Regions from separate parts of the Homo sapiens genome. Here all the other regions are linked to region 3. Evidence: fine-mapped expression QTL. A gene starts in region 3. Each other region holds a variant in brackets. All regions are shown on one strand. Distances are from middle to middle. Region 1 holds the start of LOC107986633 (a long non-coding RNA gene). Region 2 holds the start of CCN6 (cellular communication network factor 6). Region 3 holds the start of TUBE1 (tubulin epsilon 1).

Region 1 (8,188 bases), 28 kb after region 3:
AGGCTAGAGTGCAGCGGTGTGATCTGTGCTCACTATAGTCTCCAGTTCCTGGGTTCAAGCGATTCCGCTGCCTCAGCCTCCTGAGTAGCTGGAGGGATTACAGGCACTCACCACCACACTCAGCTATTTTTTGTATCTTTAATAGAGATGGGGTTTTGCCATGTTGGCCAGGCTGGTTTCCACCTCCTGAGCTCAAGTGATCCACCCACCTTGGCCTCCCAAAGTGCTAGGATTACAGGCGCGAGCCACCATGTCCGGCAGAAAAAAAATTCTTTGATTTTTAATTTTGATTTTAAAACTATCACACACTAAAGTTGACTTTTTTGGTGTGTAGTTCTAGGAATTTTATGCGTTAGCTTTTTATGGATAGAAATAATGAGTCACCAGAGTTCTGAGTGGTATTCTTGGAGAATTCAGTGCATTTAGGGGTTTTATTTAGCCTAATTTCTTTAGCTATCCTCTTAATGCCTGGTTTCTGATGTGATTTTAGTGGAATTAATCTTGAACAGCTCAAAATGATATAATTAATTACATTTCATCTTAAAGTATAGTTGCTTTTATTCTAGGCTTGCTGGCATAATTCTTAGATGGACTTAAAAGCTGCAGTGGTGCAGTGGGCTGGTGGTTACGCCCTTCTGGCCTGCTAGCTCCTGTGCTGGCTCATTAACTAAAGTTTGCTATTCATTCTGTGTTTCAGGCAGGCTGAATTTGGCTTTAGGTACATCTTGCCTGTCCAGTCTGTAGGGCTTAGCAACTCTTGTAGTGAGGGATGATGGCAGTGTGTGAGGCTGGGATCAGACTGTGAAAGCAAACAAACAAACAAAAACCAAAGAGAAATATCTGTTTGAAAGATGTAGTAAGTACGTTGGGTGGCATAGTGAAGGACAAATACTCCAACTTCCATGAGGGAGGGCCATGCTTGTTTTGTCCACCTCCCAAAGCCTAGCACAATGCTTAATAGACAATCCATGCTGTGTGTTGGATATAGTCATGTTCCCTGCCATCAAGGAATGCACTTCTTAGTTTCAACAATATTCTGTGCTAAGTGCTACAACAGCAGTATGTGTATACATCCTAGGGGGAAAGGGGCGTGTTGTAAGTAAAAGTCTGAGCTGAGTCCTAAAGGTCAATAGGAGTTAGAATGGGGAGGAATAGGAGAAGTTGTTTCTTAACAAAGGTACTAGGGGAGGAAAGGAAGAACATTTCCCAGAAATTGAGGCCCAGTTCCCTTATGGAAAGGCCCGGAGCAAAGATACCATCGTTGAACATTTAGGAACTGCAAGTCCCAGAAGGTGTGGGGAGATCCCGAAGGCAGGGACAAGGAGGAGACAGATGATCAGGGAGCTTGCATGCTATGGTGAATTTAATCCTGGAGGCTCTTGGGAACCTGTGAAACATTTTAAACTGTGTTGTGATTTCTGGAGGGAAGCAATGTGCAGAAATATGCACTCATGTGAGACTTTTTCATGCTGCACCTGCATGAAGTGCAGTGCTGGCCTTTGCCAGAATCCTTTCAAAGCTGAAGTCAGGAACAGGGAGAGGACTGGGGAATGGAGAGGGGAGTGGAAGCAGGAGACAAAGGAGAAGAGTTGCTTTGCGAGGGTCTCAAATATTTTTTTTCACACCGGGTTACTATTATTGTCAATACTAGTATTTGAAAAATTCAGACAAAGAAGAGTGCTTAGTTGTTACTATTTTTGGAGTACCCAAGGTCAGATGCTTAATTTTATCTGTGCTTCTTGCTCTCTTCTTTAAAGCATTGTCTGTCTTTATGGGTCAGTTTAAAAATAATCTATTAGAAGATTATTAAAATCTCCACCAAGCCAAGCACAGAAAGACAAATATCATGTGTCCTCACTCACATACATGAGCTTAAGAAGTAAATCTCATGGAGAGAGGTAGAGAGTAGTTGGTAGTTACTAGAGGCTGGGAAGGGAAGGGGGAAGAAGGAGATGAAAATAACTTGGTTAATGGATACAAAAATACAGTTAGATAGAAGGAATAATTTCTAGAATTTCATAGTACAATAGGGAAATTATAGTTAAGGATAATTTATTGTGCATTTCAAAATAGCTAGAAGAGAAGAATTGTAATGTTACCAACACAAAGAAAAGATAAATGTTTTAGGTGGTGGATATTGCAATTATCCTGATTTGATCATTACACATTGTATACAGGTATCAAAATATCACATGTACCCCCAAAATATGTACAACTATGATATGTCAATTAAAAACTCCCCACCAAGTTCCAGCTGCAAAAGCTGGGTTATTTCCCTTTTAAATCCCACTCCCCAGCCATAGCATTCAGGTTTTCCAAGTTAGTGAAATGTGTAAAAACAAATGCATTCAATATGAGGACATGGTCCTTGCTTCACAGGTTTAAAACAATTGGGGTGTTTGTGTGTTGTCCATAAGTGTCCTGTCACCATCCGGGATTATACACCATTCTTGGCAGATGACAGCAGCAGTGACTGATGATGTTTACAGAATTGCAGCTGGGAACCTCTCTGAGGGAATGTCACTACCAATGGACAACAACTTATGGTCTGCAGCTGTTTTTGCAGTTCAGACTAATCATGGACCGAACTGTGCATTTTTTCCTACTGAGGAAGGGGAGCAACTAACAGCAAACTTAATCCTCCAAAGTTCTCAGATCCTACTGTAGTGTTAGTCAATGAGTTTTCTTTGTGTTAGAGATAAAATAAGAGTATGTGTGTCACTGTGTGTATGTGTGTGGCGGGCACTTAAAAGGGAAAGGAAAGAAAAAAATAAGCAAATATGGCAAGGGAGAGTAATAGCCACTGGCTGGAATGCTGGGGTCTAGTTCTTACATGTCACTTTATTATGCCTTTTCCATTTAAACAACACTGTATATAAAATCCTTTGAGTAACTAGGTGCATCATAAAAACACATGGCTCAATTCTACAATAACAATTGTGAGAACTCAGTTTTTTGGATTGGGAACTTTTCCTTTTTAAACAACACTTACCTGGAACACCTCCAACAAACACAGGCTCCCTGTGATCAATTGGTTTTGGATTCAGGGGTCCAACCACATGGTTCACTTCAGAGTCCACATCCAACTGAACCACATTAGAATCTCTAATAACTGAAATGCAGGGCAAAGACTGGTCATAAGTGGCACTGGAGTGATGAATTTTTAACCTGAGAAAGACTATTTATCACAGCAATTGCTTTTATTTATTCCAGAATAAAACCCACACTTTCTTCTATATTATTAAAATCATCAATGATGTCTAACAATGTCTAACCAAGAGATTACTGTAACATTTTCCTTAGAAAGGGAGAATATTTAGAATATTCTTGTGCTACTTTTTTTTGCCCTATAAGTTATGCATTATTGAAGCAACCCCTTAACACAATTTTGCAGCGTTCATATTTTGAAATCACATGTGGATTCAGTATACACATAATAGTATAATAACATGATTTTCTTTTCTTGGATACTTTTAGACTGTCATGCATTACCTATCATATAAGTGATAGCCTAAGTTCTGCCAGATCATAATCTTACAGTTGGGTGTGCAGGCTCCCCAGGGCAGTCAGTTTTCTCACCTGTAATTCTGTGCCATCTGCCATCACAGAGACTCTGCTTGGGTGT[A/T]ACTGAGGTGGAAAAATCTCTGATGCCATTATTGACTTTCACTATGACCTGCAAAAGATAGGACACATTGTATGATTTAGTTTGTCCTCATTGTGATAAAACTGAATTTCTTAAATAATTTACCACAGTGAAGCAATACTTCAACAAATATTCACACATGATTAGCTTTGCAATTTGAACACAAGGGTCTTTGGCAGCCTATAGAAATAGGTTCAACTGGGGGTGCTCTTTGGGGAGAGAACAAAGTGACTTCATAGGGGAGAAAATTGCGAGAGAGGGACAATAAGAAATAGAATAAATCCCTTTAATTTCTAAAGATTGAGTGTGTTATACAAAGCAGGTTGAAGTATTGGTGAAGAACATGGACTTTGAAGCTAGACAGCCAGTCTCCTATTTAACTTACTCTCTGCCCCAGTTTTCTCGTTTGTAAATTATAAGCGATACTGTTACCTACATCATGGAGATAATTGGGAGGATTAAATGAGTTAATCTAGGTAAAGCTTAGAATAGTACCCAACAAATAGTAAACACCAAGTAGGGATACATTTTATTGTGATGGCTCAATATAATTTAATAGAATGTACTAGAACCCAAATAAAAATCTGTTATGTTAAGTTAGCAGCATCAATGAAAATATACTTTTTTCTTAATATTTATTTGAATACTTCCATGAATATTCTTTAGTAGTATCTTAGGATGAAAGTGGCATTACAACATAATTTTTTATTTCTATCAATTGAGAATAATATGTATAGTATATATACATATCTAGTACACATACATATATCTGATATACATACATATTATAGATATTTAGAAAGATGTTTTAGTGTTTGTTGATTTTGATAGTTATGTTTGCTGATTCCATTTGGTGAAAAAAAGTTCTTCTCATTCTTCTCTTAAAACTGTGTTGTTATTAGTGATTTTTTTGATAGTTTTGCCATATTTTTATGACTCTTTGTTTTAACCAAATCAACTTTCAACATAGGAAGCTGAATCCAAATATTGCCCACATTTACATTTCATGTTATAGCTTTCCTATATTTCTTTTCAGTTAGGAAAGATTGATGAAATAATTCTGTGAAATAAATCTGCTTCAGATCTAGAATCCAAGGTCAGATGAGACAAATTGTTAAACATTTTTCAGACACTACCTGTCCATTTTTCATGTGAACATTTAGGTACTCCCCATTGACACTGTGGCCGTGGACCAGGGTTCCGGAACTGCTTCTGGGACGGACTTCAAATGCAATTTCAAACTTCAATCCAATATTGAAAGATTCATCTGTGGAGAGAAACACTATAAACTCCCAAGAACAGCAAGATCATATTTGTAACTATGGTGTGATTTTGTAATTATATATATTTTTATCTGTTTTTGAAAGTTTGATGCATTTTTTAACAGATAAGTAGAAAGTGGCTTTTCCATGTCAAACTCACTGTGGAAAGCTCTGTGGGGAACCAAGATAACTAATGCATCAATCCTGTTGTGGGGTGTGAGGCTGGCAACAGCACACAAAATATGTGTTATGGGAGCTCAGGGGAGGAGAAATTAATTCCAAGTAGCAGCAGCACTACTGAGTATTTCACAAGTGAGGAGGACAGGGCAATCTGGGCAGAGGAAGTAGACTCAACACAGGTACAGAGGCTGGAATGCTTGGAGAGCACTGTGAAGGCCACTGTGGCTGGACTGTCCCTGCCAGGGGAGAAGGAGGCATGGTGAGTGGGAGCCACACTGGGAAGGGCTCTAGTGGTGAAGTATGGAAGTTAGGCTTTATTTTACAGTCACTGAGCAAGACAGCTGTCTTGATCGGACCTGTATTTTAAAATAATTATTAAACAGAAACCTAACTGGTGCCAGTGTTGTACAGCATTTCAGAGGAGAAAGAGCAGAGAAAGTATTTAGGAGCTGTTACTGAGGTGATCCAATAAAATTCTTATTAAGAATAGTTGTGTTTACTCCAAGAGACTCATTGCAAACCAGGGCATCTAAATAATGTTCATTTAATGTATCCTATAAATCATTTAAAATTTTTTCCTGTTATTAGTTAGTGCTCATGGAGTAGTATATAAATTGTGCAGTTTGCTCTGTATTCCCAGCTGTCCAAACTGTTAAGAGTTCTTATCACTGAAATTCCATGAAAGGCTGAGAATTGTAAGTGTAGGTGTTTTAGTGTAGGGGTAAAGATGGGTGAGGCAGGAAAGTAAAATCATGAGCTAAGCAGAGAGGAAATACTACCTCTGGGTGTTCTGCTGGATATGGTGGTGGTTTAAAAAGTAAACTTGGCTGCAGTGTAATTTCTTTATTCAGGGGATGTGCAAAGTACCTAAGTGCCTTGAGAGGAGGGAACATGCAGCTTTATACCCTTTCCTATCCTAATTCCGGGCACTTATTCTGGTGTCTTCCTCACACCCAGCGATTGCTCCATAGAATATTCTTGGAATGAATTAGATGATGATTGTGTGTAGTCTGCTAGGATTTTATTTATTTTTAGAACTGTTATGTCCCATCATCTGGCATAGGGACTGCCTTATGGGAGGCATACAATAAAAACTGAATGAGTGAGGGAGTAATGGTCAAGGAGAATAATAAAAAGCCAGAAATAAAAATTTCTGAAGGATAACGTTGTCTGCTGGTGTTGCAAGTCATGGGGAGAAAGTGGGACTTCCTTTAGTAGGACAATGGTTCATGCCAAGAAGGAGCAGAGCAAGACCTTGAGGAGCAAGGTGGCCAAAAACTGACATGGATCAGGCCACGGAGCAGCATAGACATTCTAAAGGAGCCCAGGTGGTCTTCATCCAGAAGTTTGGCAGCTGTGGAGAAGCCTGGTCAGGGAGAGTATACAGGGATGGGGACTGCATGTATGGTTTGGAGTGCAGGAGGGAGAAAGGTGGTTCTTGTGGGAAGAGGTCATCTTCTAGGGCTGAGTTTGGCATTCTTAAGTTTTAACTCTGGGCCTGATATTCCCTGTTAGCCATCTCCAGGAAGAAGCATTTCATGACTCATATTTTTAACATGACTAATGTTACCTAGAACCACGTATCCTCCTTCTGTTGAAAAGTAAGTTCCTGTTTCCATGGGGCCTTCAAAGCAAGGGGTCACACTGAATGTCTGAGAAGCAGAGGTGATGGAGGCCCCATTGAGCTGGAGATTGCTGAGACAGCCACTAAAACTGTAGATGGAGTTAATCTGAGGGAAGAAGATATTTCTTAAAATCAATTTTCTCAACACAAATGCACCAAGGGGAAGCAAAATGAGGGGGTTTGAGTCCTGAAGGAACCCACGTAATTCCTTGTTTCATTTATTTCAGATATCTGAATGATCAGTACTTTCCTGGATAGTTGCTTTCTAACTGGTTGTTTGAAGCTGGAATTTTGTATTTGATAATGTCAACCTGTAGTAATTAAGCTATGGACATTTTTATGTTACACTTTGACACAATAAGTTGCAGCTGTGGTTTTCAAACTGCATATTTAGAAGTATCCTAGTTTTCCCTCAAGAATGACAGCTGTGCCAAGATCACCTAAGGCTGATGAGGGCTAGCAAAGTTCTTTACTTAAATCTACCATAGCCAAATAAACAGCAGAAAGCTTTCATTTCTGGTTTCATGAGCTGTTTTTGTGGTTGAGAATTTATCATATCACAGGACATGAAACTTGGGCCACTTAAGATAACTGATTTTGTCCTGCATTTGGACATTTTAAAAAAGAGATTGCCATGGAATTGGGGCTGCTTATCTAAAATCTAATTATAATGTAAACCATCTTTTTTGCTTCATCTACATATATTAATAGGTCTTAGAAATTATTTTTAACATTGCTAAAATCCAACCTATATTTATGTTAAGAAAAATTTAGTCCTTTGATGCATTCCTTTTATTGCTAAATTTTTTATAAGTGCAATATTTTTAATTTTTAAATTACACAAATAATATTTTTCTACTATATTCTCACTTCTCCCCAGGGCAACCACATTTCCTTATACATTTACAAATTGTGTGTGTGTGTGTGTATGTGTGTGTGTGTGTGTGTGTGTGTAAGAAAAATGGGATTGTAGTTTGCATAATGACCTGAAACTTTTTTTTTCACTCAATAATGTATAATGCAATGATTTGCTTTCTTTTTTGTTATGTCTTTACATTAAAAGTATGGGTACTTCCTGAACAAATAAGATCTCCTTGAGACATAAATTTTCATGATAATTTATGCCTCTGAAACTTTTTCATTTGACATCTACCTTAGAATTGAAAGATTACTTCTGACTTTGTAATGCCACAGGGCAGACAGGCAGCCCATAAGACAGTACTTACTTTGATATCCCATTTCCAGAAAACTACAGTTTTACTGGTGCTAGTTTCTAGTTTCCTAATCTGTGAGACGAGGGCCTCAATTAGATGATCTTCTGGCTCTAATGGTCAATGGCTCTACCTGGTCATGCCTGGCTTACCTGAACATTTTTCACAGCCTTTCCAGGAGCCACACCTCCCAAATAAATGGGACCCTTGATTTTCCAGGTAGCTTCAGTAGGAGGAAGACTTTCTTCTAGGACTCGGAGACCATCAA
Region 2 (8,188 bases), 33 kb before region 3:
GCTTTCACTTTTTAATCTGTTAAATGAGGTTGGTAATACTGCTTTTGCCCACCTCACTGAGCTGTGAAATTAAAAATGTAATACACAGGAAACTTCTTTGTAAATCATAGAACATGGTGCACATTGAATTATGCTTAGCGCCATGTCTATTGGAACGTACATCACAAACTGAACACTTGTGAAATGAGCTCCTAGACAGATTAGCATTCTGTTAAATGAGATAATAGGGAAACATGCTCAGAACAGGACACACACTGTGAAAGCTCTTATTGTGTAAGGTCAAAAATAGCAGCCCCGACCTCTAAAACTACCATATCCATGGAGTCCACACACAGTCGGCTGGAAAGAGTTAAATAGGAGCTCCCACAGCCAAAGATGTCTAAACACATGTGGGAGTGAGTAACCCAGCGCCAGTGTGTTCTGGAGCTGGGGGAGGTTTTGCAGGTCACTTTTCAAGCAAGATGTTCCTTTCCTACCAAGAGGCAAGGATGGTCAACATCTATCTTCCCCTGCTCCACGTCAGTGAGACTGCAGAGGGATGGAAGACGATTCCAGAAAAATGCCTGCTGCCGCCAGCATTTCACAGACAGCAAACGGGAGGAGGGTGAAACTCCTTAAATTCAAAAATTGCACTGATATGTGCATTACTATATGTGGAACCGGGGGAGAGCTGGAGCTGGAGAGATACAGTTGATGAATACCCCAGTGTTGGGATGCGACTCCTCTGCTTTTCATAGACAAACCAGAAACATGAAATTATCCATCCTGACAGCCGGTGTGGTGTGGGAATCACAGGCTGGTACCCACAGACCAATGGTGATAACCAGGAAGATAAAAAGACAAAGATCAGATTGGACACTGATGGGTCTTGACTCTTTATCCAATTTGCCAGTCTGTGTCTTTTAATTGAAGCATTTAGTCCATTTACATTTAAGGTTAATATTGTTAAGTGTGAAGGTTAATATTGTTATGTGTGAATTTGATCCACATTATGATGTTAGCTGGTTATTTTGCTTGTTAGTTGATGCAGTTTCTTCCTAGCATTGATGGTCTTTACAATTTGGCATGTTTTTGCAGTGGCTGGTACCAGTTGTTCCTCTCCACGTTTAGTGCTTCCTTCAGGAGCTCTTGTAGGGCAGGCCTGGTGGTGACAAAATCTCTCAGCATTTGCTTGTTTGTAAAGGATTTTATTTCTCCCTCACTTATGAAGCTTAGTTTGGCTGGATATGAAATTCTGGGTTGAAAATTCTTTTCTTTAAGAGCATTGAATATTGGCCACCACTCTCTTCTGGCTTATAGAGTTTCTGCCGAGAGATCCGCTGTTAGTCTGATGGGCTTCCCTTTGTGGGTAACCCGACCTTTCTCTCTGGCTGCCCTTAACATATTTTCCTTCATTTCAACTTTGGCGAATCTGACAATTATGTGTCTTGGAGTTGCTCTTCTCGAGGAGTATCTTTGTGGCGTTCTCTGTATTTCCTGAATTTGAATGTTGGCCTGCCTTGCTTGGTTGGGGAAGTTCTCCTGGATAATATTCTGAAGAGTGTTTTCCATCTTGGTTCCATTCTCCCCGTCACTTTCAGGTACACCAATCAGAGGTAGATTTGGTCTTTTCACATAGTCTCATATTTCTTGGAGGCTTTGTTCGTTTCTTTTTATTCTTTTTTCTCTAAACTTCTCTTCTCGCTTCATTTCATTCATTTGATCTTCCATCACTGATACCCTTTCTTCCAGTTGATCGAATCGGCTACTGAAGCTTGTGCATTCATCACGTAGTTCTCGTGCCATGGTTTTCAGCTCCATCAGGTCATTTAAGGACTTCTCTACAGTGAGAACACTGGGACACAGGAAGGGGAACATCACACACCGGGGCCTGTTGTGGGGTGGGGGGAGGGGGGAGGGATAGCATTAGGAGATATGCCTAATGCTAAAGGACGAGTTAATGGGTGCAGCACACCAACATGGCACATGTATACATATGTAACTAACCTGCACATTGTGCACATGTACCCTAGAACTTGAAGTATAATAATAAAAAAAAAAAAAGAAAAGAAAAAGATCAGATTGGACCAAAACAGACACATTTTCTTCACTACTCCATTATCTGGTTTTGTCCTATTTCTTAGGGAGGCAAGATAAGGCGTTGGCATCCTAACTGCAGTGGGTATTCCTTGTTGTTTGATGTGCATATACTTACAGTTTAATGACTCCTTAGTAAGCTCTGTGTGATCTGCAGGTTTTAGGGTGTCCATGGTTCTCCAAGGACACCAGATTCTCTGTGGTGGAGGACAGCCTCGTTTTTCCCAGGCCCTCAGCTCAGGCCTAAGCGAGGCTTGATGTTGTCTTTATACAGTAGTGACTGCCTTGAACAGTAACAAAGGTGAGCAATCGGTATAGGATAGGTAAGGCAGCAGGAAAAGGAGGGATAGGTAACTGATCAAAGGAAATAGAAATAGGCCTTGGGATGGGGGCAGGCAGGTGGGACGCCTCAGGGACCTGAGAGGGACAAAGCACCACGGCAGCTGCAAATGAAGATGGGAACACAGACCCAGGCTGAGAACATGGAGAAGCGAAGGTCCCACATGATGACACAGGAGGAGATGCGCTGGTGGTCACACCTTTCAGGGAGGTGAGTATGAAGAAGAGGAGTACAAACCTGTCAAAATTTTATTTTTAATCTTTTTTTTTTTTTTGAGAATAATTCTCACTCTTGTCCCCCAGGCTGGAGTGCAATGGTGCGATCTCGGCTCACTGCAACCTCCGCCTCCCAGGTTCAAGCGATTCTCCTGCCTCAGCCTCCCAAGCAGCTGGGATTACAGGCGCCTGCCACCACACCTGGCTAATTTTTGTGTCTTTTTTTTTTTTTAGCAGAGACGGGATTTCATCATATTGGCCAGGCTTATTTTTAATCTTAATTCATTAAATGAATGATTGCTACCAGTGTAATTGTTTTATTTTAGGCCCGGAAAAATGGAGGTTAACTTCATTGTCATCTGTCATGGAACTGTGGCCACAAAAAGAGGCGTCTCTCAGGCCAGGTACTGTAGGAGTCCGCCCCCTGCTCCATCTGTATTTTTTCCACTCACAGTCCACCTGGCATGAGAAAGGTGTTGGGATAAA[G/A]GTGAGCCCAGGGCACTGTGGGTGCCTCCGAGAGAATCTGAGCTGGGGGAGTCAGGGTCCTTCGAGAGCCTGCCATTAATATGGAGGGGGAAAGCCAGGGCTAGGCTGCGATGGGTGCTGTTGGTGGGGGGGCCAGGCCTGCACTCTGTACGTGAGGGTGAAGCTGGAGAAGGAAGCAGCCTAGAGAGGACCCGGAGCAGGGCAAACACAGATGGAGAAGCTGAGGGCAAGGAAGGGAATGACGTGGGACCCCACCCGTTGTCGGGGGCAGGCTCTGCTCTCCAGGAACAGGTAACACAGTCACTTAGAGAACAGTCACTACTTGCCCTGCCCTCCTGAGTCCCGGGAGGAAAGTGCTCGCCCATTCCTGACCTGTGACACGCTCACTGCGAAGGCAGGTTATTAGAAGAGTCCCATGAAAGTAAACAGGGTATTAAAACGGATCCTTAAAAATGAAAGTGCAGGCTGAAAGTTGGTAGTGTGGGAGGTAGAGGGTGTGTGTTCTTGTGCAGAGGAGCGTGGGGTTTGCAGAGGAGACAGGGGAGCTTTGTGTACCCGGAGCAATGAACAAGCGGCGACTTCTCTACCCCTCAGGGTGGCTCCACGGTCCCAGCGACATGCAGGGGCTCCTCTTCTCCACTCTTCTGCTTGCTGGCCTGGCACAGGTAAGTCCTCTCCCCCGACTCTTTCCCTTCCGGAGGCTATGGCCATCCTTAGTTCTTCAGGCCCAAAACTAAACAAAACGAAGATGGAGGAAGAGGGAGGATCAATGGCTTGTGGAACTACTTCATGAGAAATAGGAAGCCATTTTTCTTTCCAAATAAAGTTCTGTGTTCGTTCATGAGCTTCATGAAAGAAATGTAAAACATTTCTCCCTTTCAGGTAATGGCACCGAAGCCTCCTTTCGCTATGTTTGAACAGCGCCACGCTTTCCTATATATTTTTATAGCAGAGCCTAAGGCACAGCCTGGCACAGTGCGGGAAACAGTGTCTCTCCATGCCAGCTCCAGGCGGAGGCTCAACTTTCCATTGCTGTTTGCAAAATGTGCAAAGAGCCCCTGGAAAAACGAATTTTGACAGCGACTTTTTCCAGTTAAGTCTGTCCTTCTTTGAAAGGGGCACTTTGGAATAAACATTTACATTTTTAAAACATTCTCTTACTTTGTCTTTTCTCAGTCCATGTGTTTCTCACTTCCTGAAAGGGAAGCAGTCCATGGAGGCTTGGAAATATTTCAAGCAACAGACCAAAGGGAAGTTTAACTTACTATGAGCAATTCATTGCCTTAGTCTTTTTAAATAAGAAGATGAAAACAAGGTGACTTAATTGTTGATTTATTTACACGGTAGACAGGAGACAGAGCTTTTGAAATCTGGTGATTTAGGAAACATGGGTGTGTCTGTGAGTTAGTAGTTGATTGGGGCCATAAGTAGTAGATACATCTTAGAAAACAAGGAATTGCAAATTGTTATACCATATAGAGAGAGATTTACGATTTCAAAAGAATCATGACAAGAATGTCAGTGGTCCAGGTCATTGCTGCTGTTCTGTGGAGGGGCTCACTCCCCTGTCTGTGTGCCTCCTATTCCACTGTTCTTGAGAAAAAGCCTGTCATTGTGGATTGAGAGCAGCTAGATGTTCTTAGACAGCAGGTATTCCAACACAGAGAGATGTGTACAAAATAAACAACAACAAACACAGAAAGGTGTTACACAAAGAGCGGTAAAAATGGATTATTTTGTGCTTAACTTTGCTTTTATGAATTCATAAATTCATGAAATAGCTGATAATACCTAGCATTTACTGAATAGCTGCTATATGCCAAATACTGTGCTGGGTGCTTTATTTATTTATTTATTTATTTATTTAGAGACAGAGCCTTGCTCTGTCGTTCCAGGCTGGAGTGCAGTGGTGCAGTCTTGGGTCACTGCAACCTCCACCTCCTGGGTTCAAGCGATTGTTGTGCCTCAGCCTCCCAAGTAGCTGAGATTACAGGCCTACACCACCATGCCTTGCCAATTTTTGTATTTTAGTAGAGATAGGGTTTTGCCCTGTTGGCCAAGCTGGTCTTGAACTCCTGACCTCAAGTGATCCGCCCACCTCGGCCTCCCAAAGTGTTGGGATTACAGGTGTGAGCCACCACCTCCGGCCCAAGGGTGCTTTAGTTATTATCTTAATTATCAAAACAACTTTACAAGGTGGTCATTATTAATCCCATATTACAGAGGAGATCAAATGATGGGAAGTTCTGTAAGATCACAGAGCTGTTGCAAAGCTCGGATCTGTTGTCAAAATGCTTATTCTTTCTATTGCACCATTCTAGTGATGCTTATTGTCCTGAAATTTTGCTGTTGAAAACAATCAAAATATGCCTGAGGAAAAGTGAAAAATATAAGATTCTTTATATTTACCCACATATTGACTATGTCCAGGCCTCTTCATTTCTTCCTGTATTTCTAAGTTACTATCATAACAGAAGATCTTCAGACCGAAGATCCTCCTTTAGTATTTCTTGTGAGGCAGATCAGCTAGCAACAATTTCTCTTAGGTTTTGTTTACCCAGAAACGGTTTTTATTTCACCATCATGTTTGAAAGACAGTTTCACTGGCTATATAATTCTGGATTGACAGGATTTTTTTTTTTCTCCGTTTAACATTGTCTCTGGGCATCTTGTTCTTCTCCATCTCTCCCTCCTCCTCCTTCTTTTGATGAGAAGTCAGATCTCAGTTTTATTGTACTTCTGTATGTAATGCTTCCCCCTTTTCTCAGTCTACTGTTATGATTTTCTTTATTTTGAGATGGAATCACCCTCTGTTGCCTAGGCTGGAGTGCAGTGGCGTGTCTTGGCTCACTGCAACCTCTGCCTTCTGGGTTCAAGCGATTCTCCTGTCTCAGCCTCCTGAGTAGCTGGGACTACAGGTGCACGCCACCACACCTGGCTAAGTTTTTGTATTTTTAGTAGAGATGGGGTTTTGCCATGTTGGCCAGGCTAGTCTTGAACTCCCCGCCTCAAGTGATCCACCTGCCTCGGCATCCCAAAGTGCTGGGATTACAGGCTATTTCAGCTTCATTTTTGAAAGATGGTTTCACTGGCCATATAATTCTGGGTTGACAGGTTGTTTTTTTTTCCTTTCAACATTGTCTTTGCACATCTTCTTCTCAATCTCTTCCTCCTCCTCCGTCTTTTGATGAGAAGTCAGATCTCATTTTTCATGTAATTCAGTATGTAATGCTTTTCTCAGTCTACTGTTATGATTTTCTCTTTATCCTTGGATTTCAACAGTGTTACCTTTTGACCTCAGAGATTATCTGGAAATGCTTCAAAATTGGAAAGTTAAAGAGGCATCCGGGGGCAGTTTTGGGAGTGTGCATTTCATTAGAAAGAACACATGAAAAAGCAGGGAGGAGAAAACCAACCCAGGGAGTCCAGCAAATGGCAAGTCATGGAAGGAGAGTGTGTGAGAGCTAAAGCTCAAGAGGTAGGCAGGAGAGGGCTTTGGATAACTGGCTCAGAAGTTTAGGCTGCACAGTATGGACTATGGGGAACCCCTGATGGGCTTTAAGGAGAGGAGTAATACAACCAGACATGTTCTTTAAAGAGATTCCTCCAGGAGCAACATAGTAGATGCACTTGAAAAGTCATTCTGGAGGGAGGAAGGTCAGTCAGGAACTCGTAGTGACGGTGCTTACTTAGTAGCAATGAAATGGGGAAAAGCATCTAGTTCTGGGAAGACGAGGACAATACAATACATAGGAGAGGGTCACTGAATCGTCATAGGAGGTGAGAGGGAGGAAGACAACCCAGATGAATCCAGCTTCCTGACTCCAAACTTTGAAGAGTGAAAAATGATGACTTTTGGACTTGAGTATTTCCTGGAGGACATTTGGGTGGAGATGTCCAGTAGGTAGTTATCTCACGGGTCCAGGGCTCAGTGGAGAAGTCCAGGCTGGAAATTTAGTTTTGAAACTTGCATAGGATGAAAACTGAAGGCAAGGGTGTGGGTGAGATTGCCAAGACACAGTGTAGAATGAGGCAAGCAATACATTAAAGCTATGAAACACCAATAGGCCTAAATTTAAGTCAAATTCAGGGTAACAGGAGCCTGCGGAGGAGATTGAGAAAGTGCGTTGAAAAGTAAGGGGAGGACTGGGGGGACCAGATGTAATGAAATCCAAGGTAGAGGAGAGTTAAATGCCTTAGAGAGGTGGGGCAAGAGGAGGACTGAAGAGGGTTCACGGATGTGAGACCAGCAAAGAGGCCACTGAACCTGGCATCCTGAATCACTGGTGGCTATAGCTGAACCTGTGCAAAACTGAGATGGAGGCAAAATTTTTTTAAGTTTAAAATTTTTTTAGGATTCTAGCTTCACTATTTCTACTCCCTTCTCCATTTTGATGTTTCCTTTTCCCCTGCTCCTTCTCCAGAAGCCCAGCAGTGTCCTATCCTCCCCATCAAAACCCATTCTCACGTTGTGCATGTAACTTTTGAATCACAGCTGAAACGTTACTCTTTACTGAGGCATATGTGTTTTACCAGTAGTAAGAAAAAAGGCTGAGGGTTTAATATTGGGTGGAATTTCCTACAGATACTTCTAAATGTAGAATTTTTGAGCTGCAAATGGACTTAGATCTAGTAATCAATTCAACAGTCCCTGGTTCCATCAAATAAACATTAAGAGTTATTTACATAAGCAAATTGCCAGGCACTGTGCTAGGTGCTGGTGGTATACTCACAAACAAACCACAAGCACCTGAGGTTGGGTGGCTTTACGGCTAGTGGAAGAGATAGGCACTTACATGGGTAATTTCAGTTTAAAAATGTGTGCAAGGCAGGGAAGTTATAGGAACCTTTCTGGAAAAGATGATACTGAAACAGAACCTTGAAGTATCCTTTAACTAGATGAAGAAGGAGCTGGGTCTGGGCAGAATGTCCCAGGCAGGAGGAACAGCATCATATATGCAGGGAACTACAGGCACTTTAACTTTCTGGAACCTAATGCATACAAGAACTGCAAGACACGAGGAGGGCCCTGAATGCTGTGCATAAGTGCTTGCACATTTCCTGTAGGTCA
Region 3 (8,188 bases):
TTTTTTTTTTTTTTTTTGAGACGGAGTCCCGCTGTCGCCCAGGTTGGATGCAGTGGCGCGATCTCGGCTCACTGCAGGCTCTGCCCCCCGGGGTTCACGCCATTTTCCTGCCTCAGCCTCCCGAGCAGCTAGGACTACAGGTGCCCGCCACCTCGCCCAGCTAATTTTTTGTATTTTTAGTAGAGACGGGGTTTCACCATGTTAGCCAGGATGGTCTTGATCTCCTGACCTTGTGATCTGCCCGCTTCGGCCTCCCAAAGTGCTGGGATTACAGGCGTGAGCCACCGCGCCCAGCACCTTCCATAACATTTAAACTTTCTTTTCTATTATAGTCAAAGATCACTGATCAAAAATCAGAAAAAGTAGTTCGTTACAGACAATCACAGAAATATTGTTGGAATGATTAAGACTGTAAATAAGACTGTAAATATGGGCTAAGAACCTGAAGTACTTGGTTCAGGAGAACTTATATGGTGAATGGTTTTTATTCACTACAATGTGGCTGGTTCCATGTTTTTTATTGGTAGTAACTTTGATGCAAATAAATCTTCCAGTATCTTTAAATAAAACATTAAACTGTACTAGTACGTATTTCAGGTCCTTAGAGTTAAGAATGCTCCTTTTGTTATCATTTATCTAGACACTATTTCTCCTGAAAACAGGCTAACTACAGTGTTTTAAAGTATGGGCTTTTCCCCCTAATGTGTTAGGTGGACACAAATGTCTGCTTAGTTATATTTATATTAAATGTGGCTTAGTAATTTTTTTCTACTTTGAAAAGTTTAAAGTTTTATTCTCATGATAGTTACTGAGAATAGTTATTTAAAAAATACATGTAATATAAGAATCCAAGCATATGTATCTTACTCGTGCTTTTAAAGAACATATTTTTCCCTTGGAAATACTTCCACCATCACCAACCACTCTGAAAGATAAAAAAATGAGAAATGGTCATAAGATCTTCCATGGCTAATAGCACTATCAGGTGATAAAGTTAACTTCCATTTATATAATAAGACTGCTTATAGGCCAGGTAAGGCAGACACAACAGCTATTCCTAATCTCTTTCTTCCTTGCTTACCTCCCATTAGGCTGAAAAAGTGAGGTACTTAGTTTCCTGGCTTTCTTTGTAGTTAGGGCTGGCCATGTAATCCAGTTCTAGCCAATGAGATAAAGGGGAAGTATTCTGGGAAGCTTTTAAAGAAGGACCAGATGCAGTTGGTGCCTATCTTCTTTCTTTTTCCTGCCTCAAACTTGAATATGGATGTGATTCCTGGAGAAGACTGCCATTTTATAGTCATGAAGTAATAATACAAGTACAAAAAGCCAACACACTTATGGACAGTGGAACATATATAGTATTAGATCTTTGAGGCATTCCTTTAAACCTAGAACATCTGATTTGCAGATTTGTGAGATAAATGAATACCTTTACTGCCTCAGCCACCATTAATGTAGTTTTCTATTGCAGTTAACACCCATCAACTGATATAACTGGTATTTACCATTGAGTATCTAAGGTTGTTCTCAGAATTTCACGTTGGAAATAAGTTGCCAAAGTACTAAAATCTAACGCAGTATATGGGTCAATAAAGACAGTTCACAAGACGGAATATATGAAGGGTAGCCAATCATCAGGCCAAATTCAACTAGCTGCCTGTTTTCCTAAATAAAATTTTATTCAAATGTGGACACACCCATTCCTTTATGTATTACCTATGCCCACAATCATGCTACAGATCAAGTAGTGGTGCAAAAGACTTTATGGTTCACAAAACCTAAAATATTTACTGCCTGGTCCTTTACAGAAAATATATGCATGCCAACCCATGCTGTAGGTAAATTCCTATCATGCTACTCAAAAGGTATAAAAATTTGATAAGAATAGTACACAAAGATATGGTTTTACTTTGAAAAATATTTTTTGTACTAAGCTGTGGAACAGATGCTGCATGTGTTGATAGTACACAGAAAGAAGTGCAAGATGCCACAACCCTGTTTGCCAAACTTACCGGGAAAATAATAGTGCTCTCAGGTTAAAGTATAAAACACACAGAGTAGATGAGAGTGTAGTTATGAAGAGTCACCTTATGAAGAAAGAAAAGCTCCCAGGCTGAGTCTCAACTATGTAATACTCAATGTAAGCGTTGGGTAACAAGAAGTAAAGAGGTGGGTGTAGGAACTTAGCAAGAGAAGCGCCGGAAAGGAAGTATGACAGAAGCAAATTTGAGTCTCCTAAGAGAATTTAGAGGTGAGGATATTGTGGGCTACAAATAAGAGGGAATCTATAGTCTATATGACAGATATCTCCATAAAATAAATATAAATGATACCAGCCATTAAAGTAACTAACTTCCTTTGGTCTGATTCCATGGTCACCAAGCAACCTTCAGATTATTACACAGCTTTTCAGTTAGATTTCCTACAAAAGATAAAGTAATGTGCCTATGAAAATGAGAATTTGGTCTTTGGTTAACCTGGCTGTACTGGAGAGCACTGAACCCATCTCGAGATGCCAATGACACTTCTGAGTTTGCAAGCCAGTGCCCTAGATAGACTCTGGAATTCACCCAGGAAGCGCGGACTAATCAGCTTTCTCTGAAGATAACTGCTCACACACCCAGCCAACTATTTTAAACTAGAACTGATGTTCCTATTGGATTAAAGCCTGACACGAAGTATGTATTTTTCAGTTTAAGCACAGGACAGTTAGTTTTATGAAGTATTTTGAAAATGCATGAACTTAATGATTTAATATTAAAAGCTTATGGAGATATCCTAAACGGCAACTTAAATTACTCTTCCAGATAAAACATATATGGTACTTACATATACTCTTTATTAAATAAACAAAAACAATCCAACAACTGCTTGTCACCTTTTTAAGTATATTTTTATACTTACAGCATATATGTAAACAATATATTTTTCTTTCAAAAGTTAGTTATTACAGGATGCATTAACAAGATGCCCTCTGGGAAAATTTCAGCTTTCTTTTAATGAAACTTATTTCAAGGTTAAGTTAAAAGAAGTCACACTAAAGGGAAATCTGTTGTCTTCTTCGGGAAAATGATATAAGAATATTAATAATCTAATAGAATAAATATGCTTTCAATAATGAAACAAAAAAACACAACTTCGCAGCTGGCTATTTTTATTGTCCTTTGAAGAATTCTCTCCCAAGCTACTGAAACTTAAAGTATCACACTGTGACAGACTTTAATCCCATCTTACCTGGTGTCCACATTTCTAAAGAAGCTGCTTATTGCCTCATCATAAATTCCTTTCTAAAAAGAAAAACATATGTTAATAGCATTTAGGTTTTGCTTCTCGCCCAAATCAAGTTCTTTCAATTTTAATTACATAATACTGTAATGGCTAGGATGAGACTCTGATAAGAAAAACCAAGTATCACAAAATGCGGAGCCTGACTCTTCCCAATCTCCTTAGAAGAGTAAATGCCAGATCTACAGATAAAAAGTTCAGCAGGGGGTGCTAAAGAAAGGATTTCACCCATAGGACTGTAGGACAGGTCCATCAAATGAGCGTTCTCTGGATTCTTCGTAATCTTTTTAAAAGCTGACTGGTTAAATTAAGGAATACAATAACCACACGTGTTATCTATTTTACAAAGTACTTTCCCATATACAAATCTCACTGTTCTGCACACGAACACCAATAAAGAGGAGACCCTGAGAATCAGGAAAAACGTTAAGACTAAGGTCGCTGGCCAGTGTTCTTTTAGTTTAGTGTGTGTCTGACGCAACATGTTTAAAAACCAGTACGTTCTTTACTGGGAAGATCCCATGCATCTTAAACGGGTCAGATGAAAGCTCAAGTCGATTATTTCCTGCGTATGGGCTGGAAGACCTAGCTGACAGGCGAGGGGGCTCGCGGCGGCGGGCGGGTACCTGGTTGACCGCGGCGTGCTCCCTTAGTGCCAGGTCCCAGAAGCAGCAGCCGATCTGGTTTCCGCACTGGCCGACTGCGACCGGAGGAGAGGAAGGAAAGAGAATAGGACATTAAGCAGGAAACATGGCCGCTGGATTCCGCGGCGACCAGGTCTCTACCCGCCCGGCGTAGCTTACCCTGTACGACCACCGACTGGGTCATGGTGGTGCGCCGCCGGCTCCGGGAGCTTGCTAGCCCGCGGCCGCTTCTGCATTCCCCCAGCAACGGCGCTCTGCTAGAGAGCTGCCGTAAGTCACGCTACTGCCGCAAGCCTCTGCCGTCGCTAAGCACGTCTGTAGGTTCAGGCTAAGGTTTTCCGTCAGAAGGCCGCGCAAGTGCACTTGCGTGTCACCGTTACCGTAGCGACTGGGCTTCTGGACTGTATATCCTAGCTGCCTTGTCAACATCTTCGAGCATCGGCAGCTCCGGAGGCCGGGGTAACTGGCAGGTAACTAGGCTTTGGAGTGGTATTTTAAAATATGTGTCGTTAAGCTGTTCGTGGGCTATCAGAGGTTTAATTTTTGTTCACAGCCTCAACACCCGGGGCGGTGGATCAGTCCGTTTATTCAGATTCCACGGGACGCTGCGTTGGCATCTCTGTTCAACAAGCCCTTTATTCTAATAGAAAATGAACAATGGCGTTGAGCAAAGAGAAACCCCAGAGAAATAGTCATGTCAGGGCACAATTGAAACTAGATGGTTATACGCTTTGACAAAAATGGCAAAGCTAAGGTCACAGACCCAACCAGTATTTGTTGAACGCTGTATACTCCCCAAATTAACTTGTAGGCTCGCTGGGAAGATTAGAAAGAAATTAAGGCATAGATCCAGTTCCAAGAAGCTTACAATCTAATTGAAGACATACACGCGAAATACTTAAAGAATTGTGTGGCGTTGACTATAAGTGCAATAGGATTCAGTGGTTGAGGATGTAGATGAGTATGTAGAAGTCTGATAGAAGACACGAGATTAACACTAGGCATTTAGATGGGTATTTAGATGGGATAGGCAGGAGAAGATTAAAAAGTTAGGCATTATGACAATTACCAACTACTTAAAATTGTCAAACATTAAAATATGTAAACTTCTATTGATCAAATTAGACCAGATTTTAATTAAGAACTCAAGTACTTCTTTAATGAAATTAATATTTTCCACAAAAATTCTGAAGAACTACGAAACTCTAAGAAGTCTTCTTTGTTTAATAAAAAGTTATATGGTATGTGCTATGAATATGTGCTAATATGAACTGTAATATTCAATGGATTAGAACACTTTATTGTCCCACCAAGACACGTAGTAGTTACTATTAAATTTCTCTGGTAGCCGGTAGGTTTAAAGTTGCAATGGATTTTATATCTTTTGGTAATAGGCAGCTTTCGGTCAGTAAATTTTTGTAGGCTGGATTTATTCTTAACTTCTTACTGAGTATGGGGTCAGTGGTAGAGGTAAAGTTGGGCATTTTAGGTCTTGATGCTAAAGTCCCAACGTCTGGGGCTTCCAAAATTTGCAAGTCTTGGTCCAGTTTGTAGGCAGTGATGTGAATAGGTCTGTATCAGTGTGTTATCAGTGCTAGGTGAGATGATACACTGGCCTTTGCAGAGCCCTACCCTTCATGCAGTCCCAGTCATTATTCCCCACACAGGAAAGAAAAGTCCTAACACATCTTATTAATAACTTCAGTCTCTAGAGAATCAGACTGAGAGACAGTTCTGCTTAAGAGCCAAGCAAGGTAGAGCCTCACATGCCAGCCACTCCAAAACTTCCGTATATGCAAACCCGGGTGAGCCAAGTTGAGATCGGTTGAACCGCAGCGGGCTATTCAGAATATTATAAGCAAGAGAAATGTTTTTGGTTGAAATTACTGAAATTTTGGGGTGCAGTTTTATTGTAGTGATAGCTGACCAACATACAGAGCAAATAGAGTGAACAGAATTCCACATGCTGAAAATGAAAAAGAAAAAAATTATTGGGAATCCTATGGACTCCTAAAATTGAAGGAAGGAAGACAAGGATGGAAGGGAGAGAGGGAGGGAAGGGGGAGAGGAAGGAAGGAACGATGTAAAAGATGGATAAAGTACAAGACCTTGGGGTAAAACCTAGCCTAAGAGGGGAGAAAAGAAAATTCATCATATCTACTTTGTGCTGAAGAAGAACTTAAGAATATGAATGCAATAAAACAGGAACTTAAAGACAAGATACTAAAATAATAAGACTCAAGCTCTATGAGGGCTGAGTCTTGTTGTTTTATCCACTACTAGGGATAGTACCTTGCATATAGTAGATAGTAAATAAATATTTGATGAATAAATGAAATAAAATGGAGATAAAAGAACTAAGGAAATTAACTGAAGACAACAACATCCACCTTAAAGGACTTAAAGAAATAATTTTTAAAAGCATTTAAGAAGCAGACTAGAGAGATGCACATCAAATTATAATGTAGAGGAAAGTCTTAAAATAATAACAATACTAGGCAAAACCCAGAGATATGAAAGTTATTAAAAATAATATGTATGAAGGAGACAAAGATGGCTCAACATAAGATTAACATGTGCCCACAGCAAATGGAGGAAAAAATGTACTTGATAAAAAAAAAGGAAGAAAAATACATAGATTAAAAGGATACACACTATGTTCTATAGGACAATTTATAGAAAAATCAACACCAAGACATGCAGCCTCATTAAGGCATTCAACTTTTCAGAATAAAGAGAGAATTTTTTAGGTACCTAGGCATGAAATGAACGGGGGAGTGGGATGAAGAAAAAACAATTAATTAGAGTACTTTAGACTCATCTATATAGCACATTCAGTACTGGAAGGCATTGAAAACATGCTGCAAAGTTCTGAAGGGGAATAAAATGTTTTAGAAGAAAATTATTCTGTAGCTTTTGTAAGTTGTCATTAAAATATAATTCAGAGTTGTGGGTGGTCTGTTTTTATTCTTGCTTGCACACCGCCATTTCTGAGCTCATCTCTTTCTCATATAACTTGACAAACAGTAGCAACTGACATGTTATTGTTTTCCAGCCTCTTCTCCCAACATTTAAATTCATTAGTTAAATCACATGCCTTCTAGGTTATCACAGAGTTTTCCAAAGATTTTTCCCAATAGGTTTGTTCCTGGGTGACATAGATCACTATCCTTTTAGCTTTCCACAACAGTTTCCTTGTTAATTGCTGCTTGACCACTTAGGTATGGTGACTTATATTTTAGATTTTTGTTATAGCGGTACCTAAGTCTGGACCAAAGTCTGTATACATCAGCATAAACTTTGTTGTGCTGTGGTAACAATCAACCCCAAAATCTCAGTGGTGTAAAACAACAATTTTTTTTTTGTACATGATACATGTCCATTGAGGGGTGTCTGGGGGCTATGCTTTATGTTATCCCCCTTCTGGCACTCAGGCTGATGATCTGCCATTATTTGGTCCATTTTTGATTTGTTTGATTTTAAATTGATTAATTATTGTGTATATTAATGGGGTACAGTTGATTTTTTGATAAATATTTACATTGTGGAATGATTAAATCAATCTGATTAACATATCCATCATTTCACATACTCAGAATTTTTTTGTGATGAGAACATTTAAAATCTGCTCTTTTAGCAGTTCTGAAATATATATTATTAATAACTAGTCACCATGCTATGTAATAGATCTATAAAACTTATTCCTCCTAACTGAAACTTATTGTATCCGTTGGACATCTTTCTGATCTCTATCCCTGTCCCACCCTCCAGCTTTGCTACCCTCTGGTAACCACCATTCTACTCTCTACTTTTATGAGCTTGACTTTTTTAGATTCCACATCTAAGTGGAGTGTTTCTCTTTCTGTGGCTGGCTAATATCACTTAGCATAATGTCCTCCAGGTTTATCCATGTTGTCACAAATGACGGCATTTTCTTCTTTTTTAAGGCTGAATAGTATTCCATTGTGTATATATACCACATTTTCTTTATCTGTTTCTTTATTTGTTAGAGAGTATGCAAAAACAAAGCTCTGAAAATCTTTAAGGAGTTCCTCATGAGCCTAAACTGAGTGCTGATCCTTGCATGGATTCATGGAAACTATGTAAGACTGAGGAAAGAACCACTGGAAATAAGCGGGCAGAACAATTCCTAGGGTTCACATAGGGCTAGGACTAATTCACATTCCCCGTATCTTGAGTGGAGAAACCTTAAAATAGCTGGAACATTGAGTTGAGTACTCAGAAAGGTACCTCAGTAG

The links. PIP is the estimated chance that this variant, and not a neighbour inherited with it, causes the effect.
Region 1: its variant is the best candidate, but not a certain one, in a credible set for the expression of TUBE1 in lung (TOPMed, PIP 0.59).
Region 2: its variant is the best candidate, but not a certain one, in a credible set for the expression of TUBE1 in adrenal gland (GTEx, PIP 0.69).

The regions. Positions count from the first base shown.
Region 1 is chr6:112,111,084-112,119,271 of GRCh38, forward strand. LAMA4 (laminin subunit alpha 4) reads right to left here. Exons shown (of 39, transcript NM_001105206.3): 34 at 8,073-8,188; 35 at 6,656-6,815; 36 at 4,780-4,910; 37 at 3,580-3,673; 38 at 2,993-3,112. It overlaps LOC107986633 (a long non-coding RNA gene), which reads left to right and starts at 4,906. Exons shown (of 2, transcript XR_001744299.2): 1 at 4,906-5,344. RefSeq lists silencers at 2,210-2,410, 2,390-2,590. The variant A/T (reference allele first, on the strand shown) is at 3,626.
Region 2 is chr6:112,050,624-112,058,811 of GRCh38, forward strand. CCN6 (cellular communication network factor 6) reads left to right here and starts at 3,481. Exons shown (of 5, transcript NM_198239.2): 1 at 3,481-3,782. The coding sequence starts at 3,735. The variant G/A (reference allele first, on the strand shown) is at 3,118.
Region 3 is chr6:112,083,322-112,091,509 of GRCh38, forward strand. TUBE1 (tubulin epsilon 1) reads right to left here and starts at 4,161. Exons shown (of 12, transcript NM_016262.5): 1 at 4,089-4,161; 2 at 3,912-3,985; 3 at 3,235-3,287; 4 at 868-925. The coding sequence starts at 4,113. FAM229B (family with sequence similarity 229 member B) reads left to right here and starts at 4,270. Exons shown (of 4, transcript NM_001033564.3): 1 at 4,270-4,399. RefSeq lists enhancers at 3,691-3,740, 3,875-4,406, 4,141-4,330.